Regions from separate parts of the Homo sapiens genome. Here regions 1 and 2 are each linked to region 3. The links come from fine-mapping of genetic effects on gene expression. A gene starts in region 3. Each other region holds a variant in brackets. All regions are shown on one strand. Distances are between the middles of the regions.

The links. PIP is the estimated chance that this variant, and not a neighbour inherited with it, causes the effect. A credible set is the group of variants that fine-mapping cannot tell apart.
Region 1: its variant is the best candidate, but not a certain one, in a credible set for the expression of SYK in whole blood (INTERVAL, PIP 0.82).
Region 2: its variant is the best candidate, but not a certain one, in a credible set for the expression of SYK in monocytes (Quach 2016, PIP 0.86).

Annotation. Positions count from the first base shown.
Region 1 is chr9:90,893,100-90,904,453 of GRCh38, reverse strand. SYK (spleen associated tyrosine kinase) reads right to left here. Exons shown (of 14, transcript NM_003177.7): 14 at 5,905-8,926. The coding sequence ends at 8,854. Among named protein-coding and RNA genes, the nearest start is that of SYK, 97 kb to the right of the region's middle. The variant A/G (reference allele first, on the strand shown) is at 5,384.
Region 2 is chr9:90,855,204-90,866,557 of GRCh38, reverse strand. SYK (spleen associated tyrosine kinase) reads right to left here. Exons shown (of 14, transcript NM_003177.7): 4 at 4,214-4,352; 5 at 1,891-1,969; 6 at 1,461-1,510. Among named protein-coding and RNA genes, the nearest start is that of SYK, 59 kb to the right of the region's middle. The variant T/A (reference allele first, on the strand shown) is at 5,499.
Region 3 is chr9:90,796,346-90,804,945 of GRCh38, reverse strand. It overlaps SYK (spleen associated tyrosine kinase), which reads right to left and starts at 3,127. Exons shown (of 14, transcript NM_003177.7): 1 at 3,053-3,127. RefSeq lists silencers at 2,989-3,148, 3,169-3,378.

The sequences.
Region 1 (11,354 bases), 98 kb before region 3:
TTTTCTCTGTCGCATCTTGAAGATGGGCAATAAAGTCTGGATAGGGTTCCTGCTGTCCCTGTGTAACAGCCGTAAAAGATGGACATATTTTACCATCATTCTGAATGTTATCCCAAGCATCTAGGCAACATTTTCATAATTGTTCAATAACCTCATCATTTAGTATAGCTTGGTTTCGAATTCCATCCCATAGTCCCATTCCCAGTAACTGGTCAGCCGTAACATTAACAGGAGGATTAGAGACCTGATTAAGATGAATGCATTCCTGGACAGCATTAACCCACCAAGTCCTGAATTGTAAATATTGGGATTTAAATAAGACTGACTTTGCTAGAATTTTCCAGTCATAGGGCACCAAACGTTTACCTTCTGCTAGGGCCTTTAATGTGGAATGAACAAACGGGGAGTTGGTGCCGTACTGCTTCACTGATGCTTTGAAATCTTTGAGGAATTTAAAAGAAAAACTTTCCCAAGTAGCAGGGCGTAGCCAAACCTGGCCTGGATGAATAGGATCTGGTTGGACTGCTGCCTGGATGTATACCTGGAACTGGCTGTGCCACAGCAGCAGGCAGTTGTGGGGGCTGATTATTTGCCTGAGGAGCCTGATTCTCGGGCTGAGGGACCTGATTCTCAGGCTGTAGATCTTGAGGAGCCGCGGGGTCAGCCTCCTGCTGAGCAGGGTCAGCGGGCTGTGGCTGATTTTGTGCTGCAGGGACGGCAGGTATAGGAGGTTGTAAAATTACAGGAAATTGCCAGGCCTCAGGAGCCCCATATTCTCTGGCCTGAGTGATGGCTCTCATAAGAGGAGTATCATCTTGAGGGATGTATGTAACTTGTTGCTTATGAGCGGCAGTAGTGACCAGACCAGAAGGAGAAACGAAGTTAGGATTTTGAACGGAGGAAGAATTGAGAACCTGTAAGCCAGGTTGAGGTGAGATTACCTGCTGGGCAGGTCCTTCAGGGGCCTGAGGTCCAGGCTGCAGTGGTAACTGCGGGACAGGCTTCAAGGGACCCTGAGGCTTCAAGGGAGCCTGATTTGCTGAAGGAGAAACAAAAGTGAGAGATGGATAATCAGGCTGCAGAGGGACAGGTTTGAGGGCCTCATTGCCAGGCCGAATAGATGGAAAGTTGAGGGCCCTGCAGCAGGGCTGAACAGGGACAGAGTTGAGAGCCTCATTACCGGGCTGAACAGGTGGAAGTTTGAGGGCCCTACAGCAGGGCTGAACAGGGACAGAATTGAGAGCCTCATTACCGGGCTCCATAGAAAGGTAGTTTAGAGCCATTTTCGGGCTGCGCAGATGGAAGGTCGGGGGCCCTACAGCAGGTCTGAGGAAAGACAGGAGGGTCCAGTTACAACAGCTGTTGAGAATGTATTTCGGTTGGATTTCTCTGGTTTGGGGAAATGAGATTATTTAAATCATGTAAAAGTTCATCATAAAGTGATAATGGGGGCGCGGTAGGCTCTGGTGTAGGTGGCAGGGTCAAAGGAATGTCAGAATGGAGGTTCATCTGTAAAATGACGGCCTCAATCTGTGCAGTTTCCTCAGGGGAAAGAGAACTGAGGACTTCCTCAACCTCCTCAGAGGACAGGAAACAGGGGTCAGTCTCCATGTTGTTCTCCTGAGTCTGCAAGGACTCTAGAACAGAGTGAACCAAAGCCCAGATTGACCAAATGGTGGGAGGAATATTTCCCCCTTTATGAGCAATTTTGAATTGTTGGCCAATCTCATCCCAATCTTTGAGTTCTAAAGTTCCGTCAGTAGGAAACCAAGGGCAGAGGAGATCTATGACCTCAAACACTGCAATTAACTTATCAGTAGAGACTTTTACACCTCCTTCTTTAAGGAGAGTTTTTATAAAGTTTAAATAAGCCGAGTACTTAGTACTGGCCTGTCCCATGGTGTCCGGGGATACTCTGAGTGCCCAAGCCTACCACCAAGCGTATTGACTGCAGTTCTCAGGAATCTGTCATTGATGCTCTCCACTGTGTTCCATGCTCGAAGCGCGCCTTCACATAATGAAAGAGAAATCCTCGTTGGGCGCCAGATGTAGTGTCCAGCCCTACAGGGCTTGTGGGTTTTCTCTTCATGTGCAGAGACAAGAGATTGTAGAAATAAAGACACAAGACAAAGAGATAGAAGAAAAAACAGCTGGGCCCGGGGGACAACTACCACCAAGATGCGGAGACTGGTAGTAGCCCTGAATGCTTGGCCATGCTGCTATTTATTGTATATATGGCAAGGGGGCAGGGCAAGAAGTGTGAGTCATCTCCAGTGATTGATAAGGTCACACGAGTCACGTGTCCACCATACAGGGGGCCTTTCCCTTTATGGCAGCCGAGGCAGAGAGAGAGAGGACAGCATACATCATACGTCATCATTTCTTCTAAGCACTTAACAGAAAGATCAAAGACTTTAATACTTTCACTAATTCTGCTACTGTTATCTAGAAGGAGGAGCCAGAGGTACAGAGCGGAACATGAAAGTGGACCAGGAGCGTGACTGCTGAAGCACAGCATCACTGGGAGACGTTCAAGCTTCTGAATGGCTGTGTGTGGGCCTGGCTAATGTCAGGACTCCCACAAGAAGTGGTGGAGCAGAGTGTTCTCTAATTCCTCCAGGGAAAAGGAGATTCCCTTTCCCGCTTAAGTAACAGGTGCCTTCCCAGGCACTGGCGTTACCACTAGACCAAGGAGTCCTCTAGTTGCGCTTATCTGGGCGTGACAGAGGGCTCACACTCTTACCTTCTGGTCACTTCTCATCGTGTCCCTTCAGCTCCTAACTCCGTATGGCCTGGTTATTCCTAGGTTATAATTCTAGAATAGGGATTATTATAATAACAGAACAAAGAGTAATTCTACAAACTAATGATTAATAATATTCATATATAATCATATCTATATTCTATTTCTAGTATAACTATTCTTATTCTTATTATTTTCTTTATTATACTGGAACAGCTTGTGCCTTCAGTCTCTTGCCTCGGCACCTGGGTGTCTTGCTGCCCACACCTTTCTATACCAAAGTGCTGTCATCGTTTCTTCTTTTTCTTTGGAGGAAAGATTGAATCTATATGCCCTGGAGAGAGAGAGAGACAGAGAGAGAGAGAGAGAGAGAGAGAGAGAGAGAGAGAGAGAGTGTGTGTGTGTGTATGTATCTGAGAGAGAGAGAGTGAAAGAACATATCATGTGTAAATTAACCTTTGAGAACTGACAGGACAGGGCTGGCTTTCCAGTTAATAAGAACACAGATACCTGCTTCCTTGGTGTGATTTCAGGGTTGGACCAAATGACCATTGCCCTTTAGAGATGCCTCCCTAATTCTCCTTAAGCACATTTCCCAGTGAGTGTGGGGGGAACAGCACTCTATCATGCTAATAGGTATTGAGCACCTAGTGGTAGTGGCAAAAGAAGTCAGGAGAATGTTGAGCTAGAAAAGCTCCATGAAAAGATCTTGGTTGCAGTGCTCTTTGGAGCTATTAGTAGATTAATGTGCACTGTGAATGTACTTGGCCATGTTTTCTAAGTTAGTTAATCAGGGAAACTGCGTGCTGTAGAGCGTGTCTCCACCTTCCAGACTCATATCCCGGAAGACACTTTGTGAAATGCCTTTTTTGGGGATGCTCTTTGGAAATGTCAGGCCACAGGAGACAGAGCATGGAGCAGGAGGGGGTGGGAGGTCCCACAGCACAGAGGTGTTGGTCCCTGTTGCAGCCTAACACCAGAGAGGAGGTAATAATTCGGTAGGGTTGCTTGCCCAGAAGCAGGGATGAATTTCCACCCTGAGACCACCAGCGAGTAACCAAGAGAGGAAAAGAGACACGGCATTGTTTATCACAAACTAAAACATAATTTAAAAACCAAAATCTGCCTTTTTCAAAGTGCTCCCTTCCTCCCTAAAATGAGAATATATTTATCTATCAGTTCTAAAGTCCCCTCCTCATCTCCGAAGGACAAGCCCCGGGGTCTTAAACCGCTTCTCTGCTGCAGCTCAGGCTAGTGGTAAAGCCATCTCACTGCAGTGCAGTGATACATTATCACAAGAGTTTTTCCCTCCCTGGGGTTGAAGCCAAAGGCCAGTGCTTATTTCCAGAGCTGTCCTAGGGCCTGCGCCGTCTGCTGCCTGCAGCATTCCTCCCAGCAGATGGCCACTGGCATGAACAGCACAGACCATGGCATCTGCTGACATTTTTAGAATAAGGCCACTGTGCTGGCACTTACATGTGTCAGCATAGGCACCCTCAGCTGAAATTGTGGTGCTCAGGGGTTCAATTTATAGGACATGCCTAAGGTCAGTGCTGGAGCCCAGTGGTCTCTTGTGTGTTGTGTTCTTCTCTGACTTCAGGGCTCTTCACCACCCCACTGTATTTGGAGCAGCCCCCCGCAGGCCACTGGGCTACTGGGCAGTCTGTGTCCTTCCCATCTCCCAGCTGACCCAGGGAGCCTTGGCCCAGCCAACTTAATTGTTTCCTCCAAACCTAACTTGGCTTGGCAAGAGCAGAGGGGACCCAGGGGAGGCTAGGATGGAAGATTGTGAGGAGAGTCCCTTAGTGCTTGACACCAGAGAGGGTGGTAATGAAGATGGATACAGACACGAGGGTGTGTCCACTGCAGGACCACTGCCTCACATGGATTTTTAAGTGGTTATTTGGAGTAAGGTTCAGTATGTGCGGTGGTGTGTGCGTTTTGTGTGTGTGTGCTTGCGTGGTGTGTGTGTATGGCATAGTATGTGTATGCGCAGTGTATGTATGTGTGTGGTGTGTGAAGGTGTATGTGGTATGTGTTTGGTATGTGTATATGTGTACTGTGTGGTGCATGCATGTTCTGTGTATTTGTGTGCATGTGTATGTATGTGTGCCCGTCTCTGCATATGTGTATGTATATGTGTGCATGTGGGTACAGGTGTATGTACATGCATGCACATGTGTGCACATGTGTGAATGCATGTGTACATTTGTGCATGTGCTTATGTGTGTGGATGCATGTGTTCATGTAAATGCATGCATTTGTGCCCATGCACATGTGTATGTACATGTGTGCATATACATGTATGCACTGACATATATGCATGTGTGCATATGTACACGTGTGCATGCCTTCTGTGCATGTGTGAATGCATGTGTGCATGTGGATGTATATGTGTGCATGTCTGCGCATGTGTGTAACCTCCTTAGAACAGGCAGAAATTGGGGCTCTGGAATCCTTTCTTTGCCTACCGCAGTTCCTTTTAGGCTGTCTTCATAGAGAAAGGGATAGCTCAAAACCCACAGCCCTGCTTTGGCCTGATGGGGGATTTCTGGGTCTCCTCAGTCTGTCTTTTATTAGGCAGGCCATGGGCTGTCAGGCCCTGGCTGGGTAGATGCTCTGCTCATGAATAAAAGATAG[A/G]GGCAGGGCAGGACAGGGCCCTCCCTGATGGGCCTCCCCGCCGTTCTGTGTGGTGGAATCTCACAGTCAACTTTGACCTGTGCACATCCACTTTTTTTTTTGAGATAGGATCTTGCTCTGTCACCCAGCTGGGAGTGCAGTGGTGCCATCACAGCTCATTTCAGCCTCGACCTCCCAGGCTCAAGCAATCTTCCTGCCCCAGCCTCCCAAGTAGCTGGGACTACAGGTGCATACCACCACACCCGGCTAATGTTTTGATTTCTGCAGAGCTAAAGTCTTACTATGTTGTCCAGGCTGGTCTCAAACTCTGGGCTCAAGAGATCCTCCTGCCTTGGGCTCCCAAACTGCTGGGATTACAGGCATGAGCCACTGCACCCGGCCAACACATTCACTTTTTTGGGACATGGCAGGGACTTAATGTTTTAGAAAACATTTAGCTACCCCTTTGACAATGCTGCTTGACACTATTTGACAGTGTGACTTACCACATCCTAATAACTTCCATGAAAATCATCACAAAGCAAATTTTAAATTTTTATTAAAAATCACAGTTTTTAAAAATGTCCAGTGACACAATGTAGCTCTTCTGAAATGAATGGAAAACACAACACACTGCTAACCAGTGGAGGGAGCTCTCTGCAGGGCTGGGAGACCTGACAATGCAGCTGTAGCCTCTGCAAGTGAAAATCCAGGCCGACTTGCAGTCATTGGACTGATGTCCAAGTGCAATCACCATACAGCAGCTACAGGCAGGGCTGGCTGATAGGGAGTATGGGAGAAGGACACGCTCAGATGAAAACATGCATGCAACGATTTTCACCACTGAACACACTGTTTTCTGTGATAGAAACTGTCGGCCCTGCTGGGGGACAAGATATTCACGGCCTCACTAGCCAGTGTGATGCCACCAGGGCAGCCTGCCCCTGATGCTCCTTTGTTACCTGCTAAAGAAGGACCATAAGGTAAAAGGCACCTTACCTTATGGAGTGAGCCCAGACCCCAGGGAAAAGCTTGGGTAGAACAATCCAAGGGGCAGCCTGGGTATGAGAATCCAGCCCAAGCTAGCTGCTCTAGAAGCCTGGAGGCCTTTCCCAGCTTCCCAAATGTAGCCCTTTTCACATGACCAATCCTTCAATTAGGTTACCTTTCTCTATTTGCCCTCCTTGGTGGCTACAGGGGAAAGGATAATTATTCCTGACCACAAGACACATTTTCACTAGAAAAGACTTCCTCGTGCTGGCCACAGTGGGAATTCTGCACACAGGTGCCTGCTCCACCAAGCAGAGAGGCTCAGGAGATTGTCCAGGGACAAGGAGACCTGGCCGGACCTCTGCAGGGAGGTGAGGCCCCTGCCCCCATCTTGTCCCATCACATTCTGGATGTTTGGCATCCCCAGGCTCCTGGGAGGGGAGAAGTGCTGATAAAAAGGCCAAAAATCACACAGAAAGAAGACAGAAAACTCCACGCACTTCCTACATAGGTGCTACCGTATTCCTACGAGCACGGGGCCTGTGTTGAAGACTCCCTCTGGAAGTTACAGAAGGAAGCCACCAAGAGTTCAGCCTCACAGCCTCTTTCTCAGATGCAGTCACCACTTTACCAAACTTGGCACATCCAACCACTCCTTTCATAATTTTACACCTGTTTGTGGCCTGGCTGACAGATATTTTGTCATTGATCTTTCTAATTTCAGGGATTCTAAATGTGTTTTGAGAATCTGCTCAGCACTCAGGGATTCTGTCTTTAAAAATATGATTAAACCACCAGATAGTGTGATTTCAGAAAGTGTGCGTGGCTACCAAAAACTTCTAAACACAAGTTATATGAGTGACTCCTGTCTTCTGTGGCTGAGCTTGGGTACTGATTGTCTTTCTCCATGCCTTGCATCCCCTGTTAGAGGAGGGCCTGCTGTCCATGGCTGTCCATGCACTTTAAAATGTCTCAGGTTTAGCTGAAGACCAGATGGGTCCAAGTTTATTTATATCTGCTGGCATAAGAATGATGGCTAAATTACCTCTTTAAGTTGTTTTTTTGTTTGTTTGTTTTGACAGAGTCTCGCTGTGATGCCCAAGCTGGAGTGCAGTGGCATGATCTTGGCTCACTGCGACCTCCGTTTCCTGGGTTCAAGCGATTCTCCTGCCTCAGCCTCCCGAGTAGCTGGGACTACAGACACATGCCACCATGCCCGGCTAATTTTTGTATTTTTAGTAGAGATGGGGTTTTACCATATTGGCCAGGCTAGTCTCAAACTCCTTACCTCAAGTGATCCACCCGCCTCGGCCTCCTAAAGTGCTGAGATGTCTCTTTAACTTTCAAGAGGTACAGCAAAACTGAAATCAATGGGTGATGACTTCTTAAAGATCAAACATGAAGATGAGGATTAGTTAAGACCAGAAAATCATTCTCCGATCTTGTATCTTCAACTCAAATTCACACTCCAAAAGGCCTGTTTGTGGTGAGGCTCAGGGTCTTTGGCTTGTTCTGAATTAATACTTTCTTTGGAAACTCTTTAGATGGCTTTGATCCCTGTGCTGCCCCCCATTGCAGACACAGAAAGCGACAGGGGATTCTGGCGGCACCCTCTCTGTGGAGGAGAGGAAGGTGTGGACCACGTTCAGAGGAAGGCAGCCTGAAGCTGTCCTCAGTGAGATGCTGGGGGATGGGCCTCTTGCCCCTGCTGTGCAGCCTCCATGCAGGGCTTTATTTACCAGTCACCAGGTCTTCAAGACAGTCTGCAGGAGAGAGGATTTCAGGGGGAAAGTAAGCCAAGCCAATTCATTCTCATGGTCCCCTTTTATCACAAACATGTAAGTCTTCCATCTCATAACAGAGACAGCAAAAGCAGTATCCAGGCCTTTTTTTTTTTTCTTTCTTTCTTTCCTTAACTGGCTACATGCTTAGAAACTGCACTGGTCAAACTTGATTTTCTTTTTAAAGCCTCAAAACATTTTTATTGTCAGGAAAGCTTTTCAGTGGCCAGGGATCAGTCTCATGGCCGTAGAAGCAGCCAAATTCCTCTGCCTTTGCCTTCCCTTCAGGAGTCACATGCTAAGGCATCCTTGGGCATTTGGAAAAGGCCGCTTGGGGTGAGAGTGCTCTAGGCCACTCTGCAATGTCCCTGGGCCCGATGAGTAACAAATGCACCCCGGGACCCAGAGAAGTGGAAAGACATGAAAGGGATTTGGAAACAGATCGTAAAAATAACCTGTATGAAAATCACACAGACAAGAAAACAAACAAATCCAGCTAGCCCCTTGGATCCTGCCATCCGTCTTTTCTCCCGGGACTGCCTTTGCTTTGTGGAGGGTGAGTCCTGGGACAGGCTTTGGGTGACAAGTTGTGGGCATGTTCCATCCAAGCCTGGCTCTCCCGACTGGCAGAGGGAGGTGGCTGACAATCAATTCCTCTGGATACATTTTCCTGTGATTGCTCCTGTGATCAAAGGCAGCCACCGACAGGTGCGGGAGCGGTTAGTTCACCACGTCATAGTAGTAATTGCGCAGCCGCAGTTCCACTGCTGCGAATCCGGGCCTGTTTTCCACACTGGAATGGAAGAGATGCATTCTTGTTTGTCAATGTGCTTGTGAAAAATTGCTGATCACAAGCAGGGCCTCTGCAGGCTGAGTACCAGTGGTGCTGCTCCCTGGTGGCTAACTCTAGGGCCTGCAGCTCACAGCGTGGTCCCTGTGCCCCCCACCCCAGGGTGACCACAAGGCTGTCAAAAATAGTGTCGGCCTACTGTAGACCTAAATAACCCATATCTGCACTTTAACAAGACCTCCCGGTGATTCATGTCCACCCTAAAGTAGGAGACTTTTTGCATTAGAACTGGGAGTGTTTTAGCCCCAGGTTCAGATATGCGGCACACAATATGCTTCTGTGCCACAGGCAACACGAAGAGGCTGTCACTCTGTGATTTTAGCAAAACAGGTGTCTGAAAATACTTGGCAAATGTTCTGCAGATATAGTCAACATCTGACTCATAATCTTGTTAAGAGAAGAAATACGAACATAACTTTAATTCTCCCTTTCCACGCTCTAATCGATGGCTCTGGATTTTCTGAAAATGGGCTGTTGATATGGGTTCTTAGGAAAGCTCAAAACATGTCATGGCAGGAGCAAAGACCCAGGGCTTGTCTATGATCCACCTTAATATAGCCAGTCCTTACTGCCACTGCTGGCCAGGGAGGCACTAATGTCAGTAAACTATGGGCAAAAGCATTAACAGTTCGCAGTCTCTAAACAAACACTTACAGACACTTCTGTTTTGTCTTACACAGACATCCTGTACAGATCAGTTGGAAGTAAGTACTAAAACCCTGATAATCGATCCTCACTTAGAAGTTATTTTTCTTATTTTGCAAGATTTCTGGATATATTGCAAGTGGGTGAAGTTGAAATACAATAAGTGAAAAAGTGAAACAGAATGTGAGGTTAAATTGTAGGAAACCGTCCACATTCAGCCATTTTGACCTATATCAATGGCAATTTCATATGATTCAATGTCGACACAAGAGAACAGCCATAGAACGCGCATCAGGACCAAGACTCACTCATCATTATAAGAGCAGAGTGGCTTCTACAAATCAAAATGGGTAGCTTTGTCAAATGGCATCAAAATACATGGTTTCTCTTATAGCTTTCAATAGTGAGCAAAATGATAAAACTGCTCGAATTGATCAGTGTGGTCAGCCATCTGTGGTCATGTCTGGGGACACGGGCCTCCCAGGGTGTCACTGAGAGGGGCTTTGTCTCTGGCCACCAAGTGTGTTCCGAGAGGGGATATGGTGGCCAAGCCTCTGGTACAGGAGCATGTGTCCACCCAGAGGGACAGCCTCTGTCTTGCTCCTAAACTTCTACAGTCAAAGAGAACACACTTCAGCATCTTTGCAAAACAGGGGGCTCTGCTCCAACTGTGGGGATCCAAATGGTACAAAGAGCACCTTTGGATCTTGCTCTGGGGGTTCATCTGCCCAGCAGCCAAGGAGCAAACAAATGCAGGGAAACAGGAATACAGACTCGTCCTCAGGAAAAACACCTGGTCAGGTCTCCTAGGAAATCTCTCCTGTACATCCATGGGAGATGCTGCCTCCAGGAAGCTGGGACACAGCTGTGCTTCAGCAGCAGGAGGGTGATGCAGTGCCCTTGCGTGCCCAGCTTCCTGGCCTGCCCTGGCCTGCCACTCTGCTTTCGGGCCAGAGTGCAGATTCTGCTCTGCTCCTTGTACCCAGTGACCCTCCTCCTCTCCCCTCATCCCTGCACTCAACCTTGCTTCTTAGCCTGCAGGTCTCAGCTGCAATCCCTAAAGGCGGCCTATCTGGAGCCCCTGCTGGAAGTGTGAGGCTTCCCTCCCCATAATTTTCTGTTCTCTTTTAAAGTTTCCAGTGTGTGATTTTATATAAAGAGATATATGGTCTTTATCCTGGGTTCCTGGCACAGAGCTCCTAAAACCCTTGGAATTTCCTGATTGTTGGGCTGAAAGCAGCATCTTTTGTTACTCATAATAAACCCCCTTCAACCATACCTGGGTTTGTGCTAATGAGACTATTTCTCTCCCTCCCTCCCTCCTTCTCTCCCTTCATCTACCTCCCTCCCGCTCTCTCTGTCTGTCTCTATATATCACCTTGGAGAGAGTGGCTGTTTACTACTGAGGAAAAAATGAAAAAACAAAGCAAAACAAAACAAAACAGAGAATATACTAGGACCACCTGTAGTCCCTTCATTGAATCCACCACATTCTAGAAGCTCCAATGTGCTTCTGTGCTGCAGGCAACTGTGAGAAACTACTTCGACACGAGAGGGCTTAAAAAACCCCATATATACACGTGATATCCTCCAGGCCCCTGTGCCCTCCTTGCTTAGAATTCCCACTGGAGTCATCCCTTTCCTAAGACACATCATAGGACACACTTATTTTTAGCTTATTGTTTATTGCCTGTCTGCCCCAGCCCCAACTATAAGGTCTGATAGG
Region 2 (11,354 bases), 60 kb before region 3:
GAAGGGTGTATGGATCTGTCTCACCGAGCCTATAATATTAAGATAGAGTTGCCAGGCCTGTGAGCCCTGTAAAGGGCAAAATAAAGTCACACTTCCATAAAGGCATTACATTTTGATCCCAAAGGTCACTGGTATTTTAGCAAATTCACGTTCCCTGCATTTGATAACAAGTGCTGCCCCTGGACAGCCTCCCCTGTTTCAACCTGGGCTCAGCTACTGGGCAGCCAATTGTCCCTACTGGAGGCAGGATGTATATTTGGCTTTCTGCAGATTTTGTTTTTCAAGGGTTACCAGGCAAAAAGTGAGGTGCAGAGGGCGCACTTCACAGATGGCATTAAAGGGCATAAAAAGTCCATATGGGCCGGGCACGGTGGCTCACGCCTGTAATCCCAGCACTTTGGGAGGCCGAGGCGGGCAGATCACGAGGTTAGGAGATCGAGACCATCCTGGCTAACGGGGTGAAACCCCATCTCTACTAAAAATATAAAAAAATTAGCCGGGTGTTGTGGCGGGCGCCTGTAGTCCCAGCTACTCGCGAGGCTGAGGCAGGAGAATGGCGTGAACCCGGGAGGCAGAGCTTGCAGTGAGCTGAGATCGCGCCACTGCACTCCAGCCTGGGCAACAGAGCGAGACTCCGTCTCAAAAAAAAAAAAAAAAAAAAAAAAAGGCCATATGTAGCCCCAAGAAAAGAGCAGGAAAATAATTCCTGCTTAGAGCATAAATCTGTACCTGACTTCCTAACAGGCTGGAGGGAGGAGACAGCTGAGGTCCTGTGAATTACGTGTGTTAACATAGACGGCTCAAGGATGAAGTTAAAAAATATGTTCCCATTTCTCAAATATTGCAAGAGGCCTACTTCTGATTTAATATTGGGTTTCATTCGCATTGTGTATATTCTCCAAAAATGAAGAGAATTTCATCTAGACAAGAAGTTAAGAAAATGTGGCTAGGCAGAGTGTGGTGGCTCATGCCTGTAATCCAAGCACTTTGGGAGGTCGAAGCAGGAGGATAACTTGAGGCCAGGAATTTGAGACCAGCCTGACCAAAATGGCAAAACCTCGTCTCTACTAAAAAATACAAAAATTAGCCGGGTGTGATGGCAGGCACCTGTAATCCCAGCTACTCGGGAGGCTGAGGCATGAGAATGGCTTGAAGCTGGGAGGCAGAGGTTGCAGTGAGCCGTGATTGCACCAGTGCACTCCAGTCAGGGTGACAGAGTGAGACACTCCATCTCCAAAAAAAAAAAGCAAAAGAAAAAAAGAAAAGAAAATGTGGTTAGTTTATCACTAATAGGAGGCTGATTCTGCCTAACACTCACTAGCAATCCCAGCTCATCACGGAGTATGTTTTGAAGCGCAATCAAAATATCAATGCCTACTACTCCTGTTAGCTAAAACATGCTTTTCATTTGTGAAATATGCAACAGCTTCTCATTCAGTGGTATTCCTAGTGACACTTACCGCAGGATGGGAACCTGGAAGTTGTGGACGGCCTCCAAAATTAACATTTCCTGGTTAGAGAGAGCATGGACAATTACTGCTCTATCTGAGGAAACCACTTCCTTCCCCTCCCCACTGCAGATCAATCAATGAGATCAGGATGTGCTGCTGCTTGAGAAGTGAGCACGCTTTCTGCAGGTACTTCTTTCGACCCTCTTTTACTTTTTCCCGCATGCAATGAAGACAAATAAATTACAATTTTTTTAAAGTTAAAGCAACTGGCTATTTTTTGATTCACGATATACAAAATCGGAGTGCTCTGATATCATTATTAATCAACCCGTAAAAAGAAGTCCTCATCCAACCCAAATCTGCAATCAGCTAAGTCTAAAATGAGGCTGATTGTCACTGATACCTCAAACACTGAGACTCCAGTGTCTTGGGAACTCACCCTGTGTGCCGATTTTTTGACATGGGACAGTAAGAACTCTTAACAAACCATCTGCTTTATAAGAATAATGCTCGACTAGCTGAAAGAGAAAAAAGTAAGAAAGTGGTAAATACCAAGGTCAGGAAATAGACAAATAGTGACTGAGAGCTACTGACTGACTGTTGGGCTTTCGAAGTGGCCCCAAGACACATAAATGCTTTTATGTGCTTAAGTCCACTCCACAAGGGTGGCTGGGGAAGTGGGCCCACAGCTAGGGATCCCCCCTCTTGGGCTAGGGGCAGCAAATTTTTTCTGTAAAGGGCCAGAAAGTGGTATTTTAGGCTTTTGTGGGCCTCATACCGTATCTGTGTCCTTTGTTTATTTATTTATTTATCCAAAACAACACCTTTAACAGCATACAAACCATTCTCTTCAGGGACTACACAGAAACAGGCTGAGAGCCAGAGTTGGTCTGTGGGTTTGCAGATCCCTGGTCTACAGTAAAGAATATTGAAATAGGGTATTATGGCAATCACCAACTCTCCGTGAAATAGCACTGGGGCCCTGGAGTTGGGTAGGGTACAGAAGTACCTTAGAACGCTGTCAAGAAAAATCAATGAAATCATGCATGGGAAATTGGAACGTATTGCTGGCATTTTTGACGTAGTTTCCTAAACACAGTGCCTAGAAAATATACAATGAGGAATATTTAATTAGGGATGAATGCTATGATCTACCAGGGGAATCAATACAAATAGTAAAGATTCTTGGGAAGGACATTCTCAATAATTAGAGATGCTTAACACTATGGTGAGTGCTCAGCCTTTGAAATGGTGACAGAACGCCACACACATAAAATGCCCTTTCAGGAGAAGGTGAATGAATGGCTGTTTATAAGTGATGGGGCCTGGGACCTTGGAGCATTAAGCTGGCATAGAGGACTCCAGGTGCCTTTGCATTCCAGAAGGCCACATTCCCTACTCACCTCCCTGATGTGCTTTGGGGCTTTGAGTGTAGAAAGGTTAAATACTCTTTCGAATCAATATCGTTAAAAGAAAGAAGCCTGTGGTTAATGATGACAAATGGCAATGAGCCACAAAATCAAAAGACAATGTAAATGTTGTGACTAACATTTTTTAATATGATCATATCCAGCATTCAAAAAAGGAGTATTTTTTTTTTCCAATTACAGCACTAGAAAGCAAATCACATTTGGAAGTAGTAAGTTTAAGTGCTTTAAAGGGGCTAAGGCTCTGTAGTCTCAGTTTTTGAAAAGACAGGATTTTGAGTTGAGTCCTTTCCTCAACATTGACTGCATGTGTGGCCCCAGCTGGGCTTGGGTGAGGACATTGGAACACGCCCTGATTATGCCCCTCACCCACACATGTTCAAGGTAGCTGGTGCTCTGGGGCGGTGGGGTGGTGGCAGAGTCGGTTGGCTTTCTCCCTGTTTCTGAACCTACTACAGTTTATAGGATGCTCTGCGAAGATGATGCACGAAGTACTGTTACGGTTATTTCCTTCATCATCAGCCAGTGTAGCTGTGATGCAAAATTAAGACAAGCAATCTGTGCTCACTGCGATTCAGGGAAAGCAGTGATGAGCATTATTTTAGTGCTCATTAGTGCCTAAGGAACTTCCAAATTGGGAGTTGTTTCAGGGTTTTCTAGTAGCTGGGTCAGGAATAAGCACTTTTTAGACCAGGGCTGTGGCAATCAGCATAAGCAGCAGCCTGGAGCCCAGGGAGTATGCTTCCTAAATTGCCTTAGTTTCCACAGAGAGAGACTCGATTTACAATGAGGAGGGCACCTGACATTTGCTGTCTAATTCAGCCTCTCACACCACCAACAAAGTCCTGCTTGGCTGTTCCTAGGCCTCCTTCCCCAGGCATCCATTCCTTTATTTTGTGTGTCTTTGTCTGAAAGGCTGTTCTGGGCTCTAGTTAGAATATCCTAGGAAGAAATATTTTCTAGATCTCCAAAGAGAGTGTCTTGTTAAACTCTGAACACAGCCCTGCACTTACATCACCTTGTGGCACTGAGGGCTGAGTGGCCCTGAACAAGCCATGGAACCTTCGTTCACCTCACATGACGGCCTCTGGACCAGTGCTTCTCAAACACAGAAGCCACCTGGAGGCTGAAAGTGGGGTCTGATGGGCAGGTGGGGCAGGAGCCCAGGTGTGGTCCAGGTGTGTGTTTCTCATGAGCTCCAGAGCTACTGCTGGCCTGGGGACCACACTGTGGGCAGTGGGTGGTCCAGTTCCTCTCATGTCTAAGAGTCCATGGGACAAGGAGCCCCACGTGCCCTGTACTCTACCCACAAGGTGGGGAGAGGAGGCTGGGTACCTGCCAGAGCGTGTCGAACTTCTTTCCCTCGGGGATGGAGAGCTTCCCTGTCTTGTCTTTGTCGATGCGATAGTGCAGCACCTTCCCTTCGTGCAGCAGGCACAGGGCGTAGGAGCCGTTGTTGTCTCTGGCTCGGATCCTAGAAGAGAGGATGGAACTGCATCATCCCCAGGCCCGCCAGTCTCCAGGTGGGACCCTGGGAGGAAGCACCCTGGCCTGAATGGTCAGCAGCCGCTCTCTGGGGCCTGTCACCTGGCAAGGCAGCTGGAGGGCAGAGTTTGGAGCCTCAGGGTCAAGGGCTTTACCCAACCCAGGAAGGCCCAGTTTACCACTCAGGGATGATGCCAGTGGGCAAGCTTGCAACAAGGAAATGCTAGCAGGTTGGTGATGAATGGACCATGGCTAAGCTCTAGCAGGGCCCAGGAGCTCTGGGCAGTGGTCAGGAGAGCCTGGTGCTCAGTAGCAGTGACGCTTCTCAGGGTGATGAGCACAGGGGCACCACGGGCCCTGATTATCTGTGGAGCACTGTGGACTCACCTTTCTTCACCAGGGCCTGCATTTGGGTTAGATCCAAGATGGACAGCTCTACCACCTAGCTTGGAGTGTGGGTGGGGGTGTTTGGTGGGCATTTTAACCAGCCATCTTCTGGACCAGAGATGGAGGGTTATGGAAGCCTCCATCCCCCGGGCCTTCCTCAGTCCCTCCCATGCTCCCACTGCAGGAAAGGGAGGCAGGGCTGGACTTCCACTCTCCCACTGCAGGAAAGGGAGGCAGGGCTGGACTTCCACTCTCCCACTGCAGGAAAGGGAGGCAGGGCTGGACTTCCAAGCTCCCAATGCAGGAAAGGGAGGCAGGGCTGGACTTCAAACAGTTTCAAATGATGATATTGTCGGGTAACACCCCCAGGAGAAGAAAATGACATCCACTGTGGGGTGAAGAGACAGAGGTGAAACCAGAGCTGTGCTGGCCGTGCTGAGCAGCCAAGGCTCTGTCTTCATGGTAATGCTGGGCGACCCTCAGAACAACCCCCTGCCCTGGGTCCTGGTGAACAGAAACACAGGAGTCTGATGCCAGGCAGGGAACAACACCCCCACTGCAGTGCATGCCACGTAAGGCTTATGACTCATGGGGAGGTGAGAGATCCCCTGGAAGACCTGTGGGACTTGGGGAGTTCGAGGTCCCAGTGGAGGCTGAAAAGGCACGAAATGGGTGCGAATCCCCCAGTTTAGCTTCGTAGTCACACACACTGCCCCATTCTCCCCTCTCCACAGCTGCAGCCCTTTGG[T/A]TCATGAGATCTTAGGTTCTGAGGGTGAGTCATGAAGTCCCAGGAAGCCTCTTTGGCCCCTGCATTTTCTAAAATGAGGAAGCTGAGGTCCAAAATTGTTAAGCCACGTGCCCAAATGCACTGTACTTGGGGCAGAGTTCAAGTGTGCCCAACTGCCTTGGGACGTCTGGGTACTGGGGAAATTTCTGATGCCTCCTCCTGGTTGCAAGAAGTCAGATACACGACCACAGGGAGAGTTGAGATGGCCTTCAGAACTGGACATGGCCATGCTTTCCTGTCCCTTGCCATGGAGACTTATCTCAAAAAGCTAACCCAAGACTTGAAAGCTGAACGATGGCATGGGAGGAGTGAAATTCAGAATAAGTGTCTTTTCTAGCGGTGCTTGGCCATGCACAGCACCCCACAGCTCAGGGCAGCTGGCCAGGGTACAGGACACATATCTAGGTTCTCTGTGGCCTCAGCAGGTGGCTGTGCTGAAACCTCCCCACTGTGAGAACAACCTCTTCTTCCCAAACCAACCGAGTTGCCAGCGCCCAAGGTGTGAGCTCCCTTTTCACAGCCACATGGCCGACTACAGCCAGCAGTTGGTGACTGTTAAATACAACACAACACAACACAACAAAAAACCACATGGTAATCTTTTCATATAAAGAGAGAACTGAGTCTGTTTTATAGGGAAAGTATCTTATAAAGTGAGACTATTTATGTTTATTCTATACATATCAGTGGCTTATAGTTTGAGGGTATAGAGAGCTATCCAAATACTACAGCAGTAAGAGTGGATGCATATGCCTATAAAAGTTGGCCTTGAAAGAATGGTGACAATATGTCACTCCAAAGTATTTCCTATAATTTAATCTTTTACGTCTGTGACCTCAAGGTCATGGAGATAATACATGGGATCTGAACCAGGTGCAGTGGCACACATCTGTAATCCTAGCACTTTGGGAGGCCAAGGCAGGAGGATTACTTGAGCCCAGGAGGTGAAAGCTGCAGTGAGCCAAGACTGCACCATGGCACTCCAGCCTGGGCAACAGAGTGAGACGCCATCTCTCCAGAAAAAAAGATAGTAGTAATAAATGGGATCTGAACTCTGGTTTCTGAATCCATGTCCAATCTGCTGTACTCCATCTTACCCTATGTCTTGATTGACATTTTCTTGTTAAAAACTGAGACAGACAAGCACAGGTTTCCCTGAGAGATGATGCCATCAACCTCATTAGGCATCTGGCAAACATGAATGAAGACCCCAGGGAAGTACCATTCCACGCTCTTCAGACTGGTGGAAGTTAGAAAGATCATTCTAAGTGCTACTGAGAGTGGGGAGCAGCAAGGCCCCTCCTACGTTGCTTGTGGGAGCATAAATGGGCTCACCCACTTTGGAAAACAATTTGGAACAGTCTCCTGAAACTGAACTTATTCATTCACAGACCTCGTGAATGAGCAATTCCACCCCTAGGTGTATGAAATGTGTGCACTATGCACCCCAAGGCTACTTATAGCAGCTTCATCTGTGCTTATCAAAAACTGCACACAACGTAAGTGACCACAGAGCAAGTAAATTGTAGGAATTCACACAATACTGTATTCTAAAGCAATAAAATGAGCAAATGGTAGCTATACAAAGCACAGATGAGTCTCACAAACATAAAACTCACTCCATGCTACCATATACACAAAGTCCCCAAACAGACAAAAGCCACCTGTTTTATCTAGTGATGTACACCTAGGTGGTAAAACTAAAAAAACAAACAAATGAAAAATAACAAAAAAAGCAAGGGCGTGATGAACACAAGAGTTCAGGAGGTGGTGCCTCCCAGGAGGCCAGCTGTACAGATGGGTATGAGTGTGTGAGGGCGGAGTGGTCTCCTGCAATGCTGGGTGCATTTCATTTCTTGACTGGGTTGTGTTTGCTTGATAATCATTCATTAAGTTGTACCTATTTAGTTATGCACTCTTATGTGTTTGTTTTATATTTCACAATAAAAGCAGTATAAAAAGAGAGCTGGTACCAGGAGGAAATAGAGAGCAACCCAGAGGAAACAGAGAGTGCCCTTTGCTTTGGAACAAGCAGTTTCTGCAAAGGCCTCACTTCCTTGAGGCTCTTCAAGAGGACAGGTTCTGCAGGCGATCCCCTCTCTTCCTGTGCTCCACCAAGCAGCCCTGGCCAGTCCTGGCAACAGGTAACTGGAAGGTATAGGTAGTGACCATGGACATGTGGCCTGGGCAGCCCCCTGTGGCAGGTGGCAGGAAACAAGAGCAGAGAAAGGAAACCCACAGGCCCAGCATCTGTAGGTGGCAAAGACCAGAAGGCTCGCGACATTAACCACCAGCAACTGTGAGGTATCTGTTGGCTGCAGGCAGATCCTGGACCAGGCCATTTTTAATTAAACATAGGAGACAAACTGATTTGGAAGGCTTGCTCCTCCTCTTGGCTGTGTCCTCTTACTGAGAGCTTTGCCCTGGTGGTGGCATCAGGACACCCACCCAGGCTTATGGCTCTACAGACACCCAGAGAGGGCGTGCACACAGGCAAGGCTCCTGGCTCCTGTCTGGCTTGCTGCCTTCCGCCTTCAGGGTCATCTGGCCTCAGGCTGTTCACAGAAGCCTTTGAATATTTACAAAATATTTTTTCCCAGTAATTGTCTTGGGAGGAGTAAGTTAACAGATTTGTGTTTTGCTATTGCAAAGCCTGAGATTTCCAGGGCTTGAGCTTGAGATGATGCTGAGAAGCTGTCCTAACTGGTCTTGAGACAGTCCTTGACCTGCGGCATGTCTACTTTCCCAGGGTAGGCAGCCTTGGCCTCTGGGGTGAGCAGGCCTTGTGCCTCACAGACACTAGAACACTATCCAAAGGTGAGGCATGTTGACTCTGCTGGGGCATGGCCTGGAAGGGCTGGACTCCTCTACTCTCCTGCACCCTCCTAGGGGAGAGAGAATATACAGAGGTGATGCCCGGGCACCAAGGGGAAAGTGAGGATGTAAGAAGTAGTGAGGCACTCAAGGTGGCCTCCCCAGGGCTACGGGGACACTGCCTGTATCTGCTGTAGACGGAACAGAAAAGCCGGGCACATTCCAGCCCACTAGGTGTTCTCATTCTCCCCTGCCATTTTTTTTCCATGGCAGAGTAGAGTATCACCGGGTCAGTTGTCAGACTCATACAAGGGGAAGGAAGATGCCTGGGATTGGCTGTGTGCATTAGATGTGCAAAGGATGAATGCTCACTGTGGCTAAGGTGGGCTGGGCAGATGGACAGAGGGGGCCTGTGCTGGGTTGGGTGGGCAGTTCTCACTCAGAGCCATCTCCCAACAGTGGTTTCTCAAAGAGAGCTGGGAGAGGGGAAGAGGAGGATGTGGGAGCGAATGAGGTCCTGAACAGTGTGTATGTCAGCAAGAGGCAGGAGAAATGCCAGCTTTACTGATCCATGAAAGATATAGATAATGCAACTTCTGAGTGCTTCTGCCTTGCGCCATAGCACTACTGAGGCACATGTGCATTCCACACAAAGAAGAGCAAGATCAGTACACAATCCCTATCTGAGGCCACACCAAGCTGTTTTAACACACCTGTCGTTTAAAACATTTTATTACAAACGCCCTCTCATTCTCTCCCTCTGCTTTAGTTCATGAAGGTGGAATTATTTAACGCATCTTGTCTTTCAGCTTCAAGGAGACTTTGATCAGCATCAATGAAGTGATATTGACATCAGCCCACAACTCTCTTTGAAGTTTTAACTTCAGACAGGTCATGACTCTTTATGATGACCTAGGTCTGCAAAACCACATGTGTCAAATAAAATGGCATACTTTGATCAATTACGGCAGCATATGAAAGCACTGATGGAACAGAGTTTTTGTTGTGGCAAAGGAGGCTCGTGACAGCCTAACACAGTCTCATTCCTCAATGAACAAGGAAAAGGTTTTTCCTAAGCCGCAAATTCACTTTTGAAATTGAAGTATAGGACAAAAAGTGAGTTGAAACTTGAACAGCAAAAAGTGAGTGGCAAATGAGAGCAATTAAAGTGGGTTTGGCCAAAGGGCCAATGCCAATATCAGCACAGCTGTGGACAGGGACAGAATCTCAGGCCAGCAGCCCAGTGAGCACCTGGATGTGGGATTCCCACCTTAAAGCAAGGACCTGTGAAGAGGAAATCCCCTTCAACTCTGGAGGAAAGTGTTCCCAGCATCGAATACTCAGGATTCCCACAGATTAATATCAATCAGGCATAAGCTCAGAAAGATCACTGAAAACATAAGGAAGCATGAGTTATGAGAAAAGGGGTAGGGAGGGAAAGAGAGAGAGATTTACATCCTCCAAAAGTTTCGGTAGTAGAATAATCAGATATAGAATATAAACTATGAAATGTTTAACAAAATAAAAAACGGAACCATGGAAATTAGCAACCAATAAGATACTCTAAAAATGCCCCAGAAATATTTGAAAAAACAAACAAACAAACAAACAAACAGAACTGCTAGAAATTTTCTAAAAAATGTAATTAAAAAAAATCAGTGAATGAGCGTAAGAGCAGATTGGACACAAATGAAGGAAAAATTAGTGCGCTGGAAGAATAATTCAACGACGTTACTCATAGCACAGGACACAGAAAAGGCAAGGGAAAATAAAAAATATAAAGGATGAATTGAGAAGGTCAAACTGTATTTAATAGGAGTCTCTGAAGGAAGAAATGGGCAAGAACAACAGAGAGCAATATTTGAAGAAAAAAGTAGCAAGATGTTTTTCAGAACTGATGAAAGAAAAGAATTCATGGATGTAGGAACCACAGAGACATGAGAACCATTGGCTTAGCTTTATACACATTACTTAAGTCATCTCCATAATGACTCAGATAAAACATCAGTCTCCCCATTTTATTACTGAGGAAACAGAGGCTCAGAGAGCAAAATTAAGTTGTCCAAATCACAGAGCTATTAAGTGGCAGGGCCTGTCTGACTCATGGCCTGAATTTCTTTACTATCTAACTTAAGTTTCTAGAAATAGAGGCATTTTCAAAGATAACTTTATCGGAACCAGTCCAATAATACAGTATTTGGGCATTTTGCAGGAATTGCAACTGCAAATGCAGTTACAGACCCTCCAATGAACTATGAAAATCTCAAATGATCATAGTTGTTAATCCAGCCCAGGTAGGTAACAGGTATCTCAAACAGGCTCACACCATATCCCCAGACCAGCAGCATCAGCATCATTTGAGAACTTGGCAGGAATGCAAATGGAAGAGTCCTTACACAGACCTGTGAATTAAAAACTCAGGGGATGGAACGCAGACATCTGTGCTTTTGCCAGCCCTCCAGATGGTTCTTTCTTTTTCTCTGTCTGTCTCTCTCTCTCTCTCTCTCTCACACACACCCACACACACACACACACACACATATTCACTCAATAGCTCATTTGTGCATCTTAAGTTACGGGCTCCATGGGTGGCCCTGCAGGATAAACCAATGAACAATAAGAATAGACAGTCCAGAGAAGTTTTGCACCCCATTTTTTTATGCAGCTAAGGACTAGAAGATACAGTGATTCTGGCTTTCTAAGAAAAAGGGTTGTGTCCACCAGAATCAGGGGTGTGCAAATCAGAGCCATACAGCCCTCGTCCAGGAGCAGGCCCTGGGTGGGACCCAGCCTGGGGACACCAGATAACATACCTGTCACCTTGAACATGAGAACAACACCTCTCACCAATGCTCACACCCTTCACCTCCCCTCCCCAGCAGGTGGCTTGCATGGCAGGTGACGCCTTGCTTTGGAAACAGATGTTATTAATCCTTTGCAGTGCAAGTGGGACTCAGTATAAGGGAATCATAAAAATTTTATTCACGTATATCCCATTTCTCT
Region 3 (8,600 bases):
ATACAAGCTAATATTGGTCAGATAAAATTATAAGCAAATAGAAAATGTCCCTGATAACATCATATCAAAATGAATGAACTTTCCTAAAATCCAATCAGACTAGTTCTTAAAACATCTTCCCACAATCCCTCAGTAGAAAACCCTTTTTTCCTAGTATTCAAATCCAACCTGTTCAAATCTAAGTAGAAGAGGAAGGTGATAAGACACAAATGAGGCAATTTGATCATAATCTCTCATTAGGACTCTGCCTTCTGATTTTAGTTGCTTTAGAAGAAAAAGTAATGCTCAATGTGTAGACTTCTAAAACAAAACAAATTCTTCCCCAAAGGCCTAAATTCCTGTTGTTGTTGTTGTTTTCTCCACCCAGTTATAGCTAAACCAATCCAGAAGTAGTGGAAAATGTTAAAACCAGCAAAGCAAGAGTAGAAAAGTCAGGGGGTAGCTGGAAAAAAATCTATACAGGGAAAGTTGAGAAAGTAAAAATTAGCCATCACTTAGGCTTAGATAACTGACACAAACCCAGCTGGTTGCAAAGTTAACAGGAAATAATATTTCTTCCATGGACAGACTGCAGCTGTAAAGGGTGACAGTAACCCCTCCTGTAAGTAACTTCTGCTCTGTTTCTCTAAAATGGTAGACTGTCAGAAACTATGCTGTTTGAAATTATATTACAAAGATGAGACATCCACTCTTACTTGAAGTACCTCTATTTTGATCGGTATGATTGAAAATTCAGTAAAATCTTGCTATTTAAGACTCCCTAAAGAGAGAGGAACTGCCCTTCTAATTACTGGAAAGTGTGAAGTATTGAACAACATAAATGCACTTTCCTTTTAAAAGCAAACCGTAGTTCAGTGGAGTCTAATACAGACTCAGTCCCTCAGCTGCAGCTCTAAAAAGCTCTGAAAAACAACACTTTTTTTTTTTTTGGTAAGTCTTAGAGAAGCTCTCGTAGTGATAACACCTGCTCTAAACAGACACACAGCTCTTTATAGTCTTTATTTATTCCACTTAGTGAGAATATTCATGTTCTTAAATGTAAAAGTACAGAAATATTAATGCATGGAATTACAGGATTCTCTCCAGACTATATTGGAATGGCATGTAACCAGCAGGGTCAACATGTATGTTTACCTTTCTAAATTCTGAGCAATGTCTTTCTCAGTTCTGAAATTTAGATTCTAAATTTTAATTCCAAATTCTGAAAAAGCTTGAATTCCAAAATACGTCTTGGCACAAGCATATTGGATTATAACCATGGGCAAACAATGTGCTAAATAAGTGAAGTTCTACTAAGAAGTCTTCCATTAAAAAAAAGCAGAGAGATTAGACCTGCATTTAGAATATTAAATAGGGGCCTAACAAAGATCAGGGTGATTCATTTCTAAAGTGAAATCTAGCAATAAAATAACGTTTCTACCAATTTCATCTCTCAGGAAAGATAAAGACCTAAAGTATACACCCCATTTTTATCCTAGCTTAAAACTTTCTAGTTATTAAGACTATTATAAAATCCTATTTTATATTTCACTTCAAATACAGAGGCTTAAAAAAAAATCTTCCCACAATCCCTCAGTAGAAAAATCTCTTTTTTCCTAGTGTTCAAATCCAACCTTTTCAAATCCAAGGTAGAAGAGTAAGAGGATAAGACACAAATCAAGTAATTTGATTATAATCTCTCATTCAAATACACTTTAAAGTGCACTTCAAATACAGGGGATAATACAAATCAATTTCTGTTTTAATGCAAGAGTTTTCTAAATACGTTAAAACAAAAGTGCCGTTCAGAACAAAAATGATTTGATAAAATAATTTCAACTGACAAAGATTTCTCACTTAAAACACTTAATAATTTACATGTATTTAAGCCTTTTTGAGAAAATATAATTCTATCTATGCACTGCTCGGACTTTCACTGGGGAGAAGGAGGACATCAATGTATTTAGTTGCATTTAATTAAAATGCTGCCTGTGTGAAGGCAATGAATTTGTCCCTACTAAGACAAAGAAGTCAGATGGTAGAATCAATTCCATTTCTTCCAGGAACTCTTAGGGATTAAATGGTTCCTTTTTTTATTTTTAATACCAAGAATCAGATATGGCACAACATCTTCAACTCTTTTTTTTTTTTACTACACGCTGCAATGCTTTGAACTCTACTTGAGTTCGACTGAATCTTTGCTAAGTCAGGCAAAACTCAAAAAATATTTTGCAACACTGTTTCCAACGTAAAAAAAGATTCAAACTCTCACTTCTCCAATTGTCTTTCTAGTCCTTGAACATTCCAACAAAAGAATGGATTGCATTTATATAGTTTTTAGGTGGGCTTAAGGTTTTGGAGCCACATTGCCAAAAACAGACAAACAGACAAAAAGAAACACCCTTAACTCTTAACTCAAATTTACATTTTACTACATAAAACTTTCTTGCTCTCCAAGTTCATTGGCTAAGTAAATTACTTGACAATGAAAATGTATCCACAAGAGTAATTATGCTAAATTTTAGTAGTGGTTCAGAAGGGTTGTTGTTTGAATGCAACTGCTGTTTCTTTTTGTAGTAAAAGATTTGTCTAAGCTCATAAGACGTCTGGACATTTCTACTTTGAGTAACTTTGATAAACACTGCGGCATTTTCCAGTGGATTCGTGTAAATGGCCAAAGGAAAATGTTCTAGCTCCAAGATCGACTTCCTCGCGCTGTGCCTGATCCCAATCCCGCGTCTCCCGAGGGCCGGGCCGCGACCGCACTTTCCGCGCTCCCTGGGGGCCTGGGCGCCCTGGGGTGCCCGGGTCACTTTCCGCACGGTCTGACCTCCGTCCCCTCCGCCCAGGCCTGAGCCCCTCTCTCCCGGCGCAGCTTCTGGATCCCGAGCGCGGGTAGGTTCAGGAGCGAAGCTGGCGGAACCCACCTGTATTTTATTCACATGGTTTCAGCACTTTTACCTCGGCCGATGAAGGTAGAACAAGAAAGGGCATGAAAGCAGCGCGTCGTTCCCCGTAACCTCCTCTCCTTACCAGAAAGTCCCGGCCGGGTAGGGGACGCGGCCACACCTACCTGCGCCAGGTGAGGCGAGGGCGGGCGCAGCGCGGGGCCACCCGCTCCTCCTCGCTCTCCAGCCGCCGCCGGGGTGGCCTCAGCCGCCGGGCCCGCGGCTCTTCCTCATTTTGGGCAACTTCCTTAACGCGCCCGGGCAGGCGGCCCGCACTTCCTCCCAGTGTCGCGCCCCGCCGCCCTGGCCCGCCCTGCTGACCGCGCCCATGAGCCCGGAGCTGGGCGGGAATCGGCTGAAGCGCCGGGCGAGGCCCGCGGAATCGGCCCAGGCGGCGGCAGGTGTAGAGGAGCCCGGGTGGGGCGCGCCTCTCTCCTCCCGCCGGACAAGGGCCCTTCGCAGGCAGAGAAGGTGGGGCTGCCCGGGACATGGACCGCATCGGTCCCCCTCCTCCCCGCCAGCGCGGTGGCTTCTGTGACTGCCCAGGACCCACAGACACCCAGCGGCCCTTTCCTTTTGCTATGCAGTGCCGGGGAAGAGACTCCACTGCATGGCATATTCCCTGGAGTGTATCTTGGTCACCAAACCAACAAGCTCCAAGCTACTGTGCTGGAGCACTCGGGAGGCCTGGGCAGTGCTGAGAGGGACCCTGTAGGTGAACACCAGACTTCACGGCGCACTAGTGGGCAATGGGGCACGCTGCTTCTGAAGGCTTTAATTATTACAAAAGGCTTTGCTTCCTTCTTACCATGACGGCTCTGACGTCCACAACCAAATAAATTAAACCTATAGCCCTAAGAATGGTTTTGAGATACCCGCCTGATACCCTTCTCCCAACCCATCCCCCTTTTCCTTTTGGACATTCCTCTTTAAAATGTTCCCACAAAACGGCATCCAGACCTTCTTGATAACACTGGTTGGCAGTGCCTGTTTTAAAAAGCTTTACCCTAAGCCAAAATGCGAGAAGCAAAAAAATATATATATAATGTGCTGGATTGTAATTGCCATGGAGAAAATATAGGGATGGGACTATTTACACTTATTGGAGCCCCCAGCCTTTTCTGCTTCCAGGGTTATTGGATTTTCATTCATTTTTGCCATTATTTTTTCTAAACCTGTTAAAAGAAAACTTCAGCAGAATTAAATTTAAAGCAGTTTAATTGAGTAATGAATGATTTGCGAATGGGGCAGCTTCCAGAATCACAGCGGATTCAGAGACTCCAGGGATGCCTCATGGTCAGAACATATTTATAGACAAAAAAAGGGAAGTGACATACAGAAATTGGAGGTAAGGCAGAGAAACAACTGGATTGGTTACAGGTTGGCTTTTGCCTTCTTTGAACACAGTTTGAACACTCAGCAGTGTATGAATGGTTGAAGTATGGCCACTGGGATTGGCCAAGACTCAGCTATTGTTAAAGGCACATACTCCTAAATTAGGTTTTCAATCTTGTCTGCCTATTAAGCTAGGTTACAGTTCATCCACAAGGACTCAAATATAGAATACAGAGTCCTTCTCAGATCATACTTAGGTTGCTTTAACAAACATAAATGGAAGATTTTGATAATGGTTATATTTGCTTATCATTGGACTTAATTTTGCTTCAACTACCCGAAAAAATAGCCATTGTTCCTGAGATGGAGCCTGCAGAATGTCTACAGATGGTTTTCAGAGTTGTCAGCATTATTGGAGATGAACACTAGGGGACCAGTGTGTACAAAGCAAACCCAGCCTGCACAAAGATTGCAGTTTTCTCAGGCTTTCACCTGATGGAAATGAGGGGGAAATTCTAGATCCATCTACAACCTCCTTCCTTTACACTGCTGTGTTCCTTTCCCCCTTTGAGTCACCTTCCGCATTACTTAGTATCATGTAGTAATTTTTTTTTTTTTTGAGACGGAGCCTCACTCTGTTGCCCAGGCTGGAGTACAGTGGCCCGATCATCTCAGCTCACCGCAAGCTCTGCCTCCTGGGCTCACGCCATTCTCCTGCCTCAGCCTCCCGAGTAGCTGGGACTATAGGCGCCCGCCACCATGCCCGGCTAATTTTTTGTATTTTTAGTAGAGACGGGGTTTCACCGTGTTCGCCAGGATGGTCTCGATCTCCTGACCTCGTGATCTGCCTGCCTTGGCCTCCCAAAATGCTGGGATTACAGGCGTGAGCCACCATGCCTAGCCTAAAAGATGGTTCACATTATGTATCATCAGGGAAATGCAAATGAAGACAGTAAGATATCAGTATGGCCCAAATTCGGAACACTGACCGCAGTGAACACTAGTGAGGATGTGAAGCAATAGAAATACTCATTCATTGCTGTTGTGAATGCAAGATGGTACAGCCACTGTGGAAGACAGTTTGGCAGTTTCTTATGAAACTAAACATCCTCTTACAACATGAGTAATTATAAGAGGATTGTCCTTCTTGGTATTTACCCAAAGTAGTTGGTATTTACCTAAAGTAGTACCCAGTAATTGTGCTTCTTGGTATTTACCCAAAGGAGTTCAAACCTTATGTTCACACAAAAATCTGCACACAAATGTTTACGCTGGCTTTATTTACTAAGTTTATTGCCAAAACTTGGACACAAACAAGATGTCATTCAGTAAGTGAATGGATATATAAACTCTTGTACATCAGTGTAATGGAATATTGTTCCACACTAAAATGAAATGCACTAGCAAGTTATGAAAAGAAATGGATGAAATCTAAATGCATATTACCAAGTGAAAGAAGCCCTCTGAAAAGGCTACATACTGTATAATTTCAACAGGTGATATTCTGGAAAGAGCCAAACTATCTGGATAGTAAAAAGATCAGTGGCTGCCATGGGCTGGTGGGGAGGGCAGGATGAATAGAAGGAGAACAGAGATTTTTTAGGGCTGTGAAAGTATGCTGTATGATATTACAATGGTGGATACACAGCACTATACATTTGTTAAACACCATACAATATACAACACCAAGAGGGAACATCAGTGTAAACTTCAGGCTTTGGGTGATTATGATGTGTCAAAGTAGGTTCATCAATTGTAACAAATGTACCAGTCTGATGGGGCTGTTGATAATGGGAAAGGCTGTGCATGTGTGAGGTCAGTGGGTATATGGGAAACCTCGGTACCTGCCTCTCATTTTTACTGTGAACCTAAAACTGCTCTAAAAAATAGTGTTTAATTTAAAAAAATAGTTTTTTTGGTAACAGTGGCAAGTATTCCTAATAGGCAATCCCTTAAAAGAATAAAAGCACAAAGGAAATAGAAACATCCCAAATTTCAGACATAATCATCATTACCGTTAGGTGACCCTTACAAAATTATCTCTTTCTATATGTACACATGGCAATAGATATAAAAATGGGCATCATTTTAAATATAATACATTTATTATACATTTTATCCATGTTAAATATGATATTTAATTCTACTTAAATTTAACAGAATAAAAAATTCTGAAATGGGATCTAAAGAATTGCTGATTTTATAGAAATGATTCTTTGCCACAAATGTATCATTTCTGAAATGACCCCACTTTGATTAAAGGAAAAGAAAAGTGACAATAATAAGCAGTTTTCGTCATTTCTTCTAAACCATGAGCTTTAATTTCAGACAGTATCAGTAACTCTGCTATGATACATGAACCAATTACCTCTCTCACTCCACTTCACTTCAGCTCACCTCTCACGTTTCCCTAGTTATATGAGTTTTACATAGTTAAGTTTAAAATTTTTGATTTCTGTAACCATAAACCCTCAGTGGTCTCTTCTTAGTTCTCCATTTAAAAGGATACCTTATGCACCTCCAGACCTTTCTACCACCATATCTCATTCCTACTTTCTTTGTTGATGAGCTGGATGGACTCTGTGAAGATGTGATCCCACATACTGCATCTATCAATGCTCTCCACTTTCAGGATGTTATTCTGTTGCTGTTGTATTGCAGTGACATCAAGGTGGGCACATTGTGTCTCCATCCTACTTCCCTTTGGCCTAGACTCGGTTGATTTTCCTCCCTTGCCCCTTTGGCATTGAATGTTGTTTTGGAGAAATGTGAGAACAGCCAGTCCTTTGTCCTCTTTTAGGTGACTTGCTCTTCTTTCCAGGCTGCTGGAGGAAACTTTCTTTAACTGAGATATTAAGAAACTTGACAAGGATATATACTGATACAGATCAACCAGCATCTTTTATTTCTTTTTCTTTTTTTGAGATGGAGTTTCACTCTTGTTGCCCAGGCTGGTGTGCAATGGCGTGATCTTGGCTCACTGCAACCTCTGCCTCCCAGGTTCAAGCAATTCTCCTGCCTCAGCCTCCTGAGCAGCTGGGATTACAGGCGCCCGCCACCAAGCCCAGCTAATTTTTTGTATTTTTAGTAGAGACAGAGTTTCACCATGTTGGCCAGGCTGGTCTCGAACTCCTGACCTCAGGTGATCATCCTGCCTTGGCCTCCCAAAGTGATGGCAGGAGTCACCACACCCGGCCATCTTTTATTTCTTAAACACAATGCACTCTTTAATGCACATCATAATCACCCAAAGCCCAAAGTTTGCATTGAGGTTCCCTCTTGGTGTTGTATATTGTATGGTGTTTAACAAATATATAATGCTGTGTATCCACCATTGTAATGCGCAGATTTAGATCTTCATTCAAAGAATTTTTTCTTGTGTGATTTTAAATACCTTTTTATTTGTTAAGTGCTTTTCTTCAAGGATATTAATTAACTTTTTATCATCTAAGTCTATTATCTTTTCTCTGATTGTAGTAATCTACTTTGTTTTTTCTTCCTGGTTCACAGTGATTTTCTCTCTCTCCCTTTCTTTTTTTTCGGGAACTAAATGTTTAGCTGGGTCTGCTTTATTTCTTGTTATTTCTAATTTACCTGTAGGTAGGTTTATTGGTCCTCAAATTATTTCTTTGTCTCTGGTTCTCTCTATCTCACTCTTTTTAGTTATTTTCTCTTGGTTATTCAATCGGTTCTTGAGTTTTTTAAAAAATTGAATGCAGGCTCTTATCAAATTTTGTAGCCTGTGCACTTAAAAATTCTTTCAGACTGGATTTTATTTTTAATTTGTGCATGTTATTTTCTTTTAAGGTTTGCATAGCTGCTAGTTCATTGATTTCATCTTGTCCATACTTGGCAGCTTTCTTCAGACTTTCACTTTGCTCTGCCCCTTTGTGTGTGGCAGCTCCTAAATCCTCATGTCAGAGCCTTTTCTTACCCCTTTTCTGGATTACATATGACGGCTTAATATTCCTTTTGAGCTTGATTTTCTATAACCTTTGAGCGTGGGAATGGTGGGGGTGGGCTTAGCTGGAGTTGTGTTGCACAAACTGGGCCCCTCCTTCCAATGTGAGACTGTGAGGAACATGCAGGCTTCGCACTTCATTGAGGGAGGGAGAAGGCTGAGCTTACTCTGTCCAGCGAGGTTGGGGGCATCTGTGAGTTTCAGCTCATTCCCCCAATTAATGTGGGTCGTTGGAGTCCTCACACTCTGACAAAATCATGCCACATTGCTGCTATTTCCTTTTGCACTAATCTCCACTGCAGCCATTTTCACTACTCCACAGTCAAAAATGAGAAAAACTAAGGATAAACAATGGCCCCTTCTTCTCTCAAGATCTG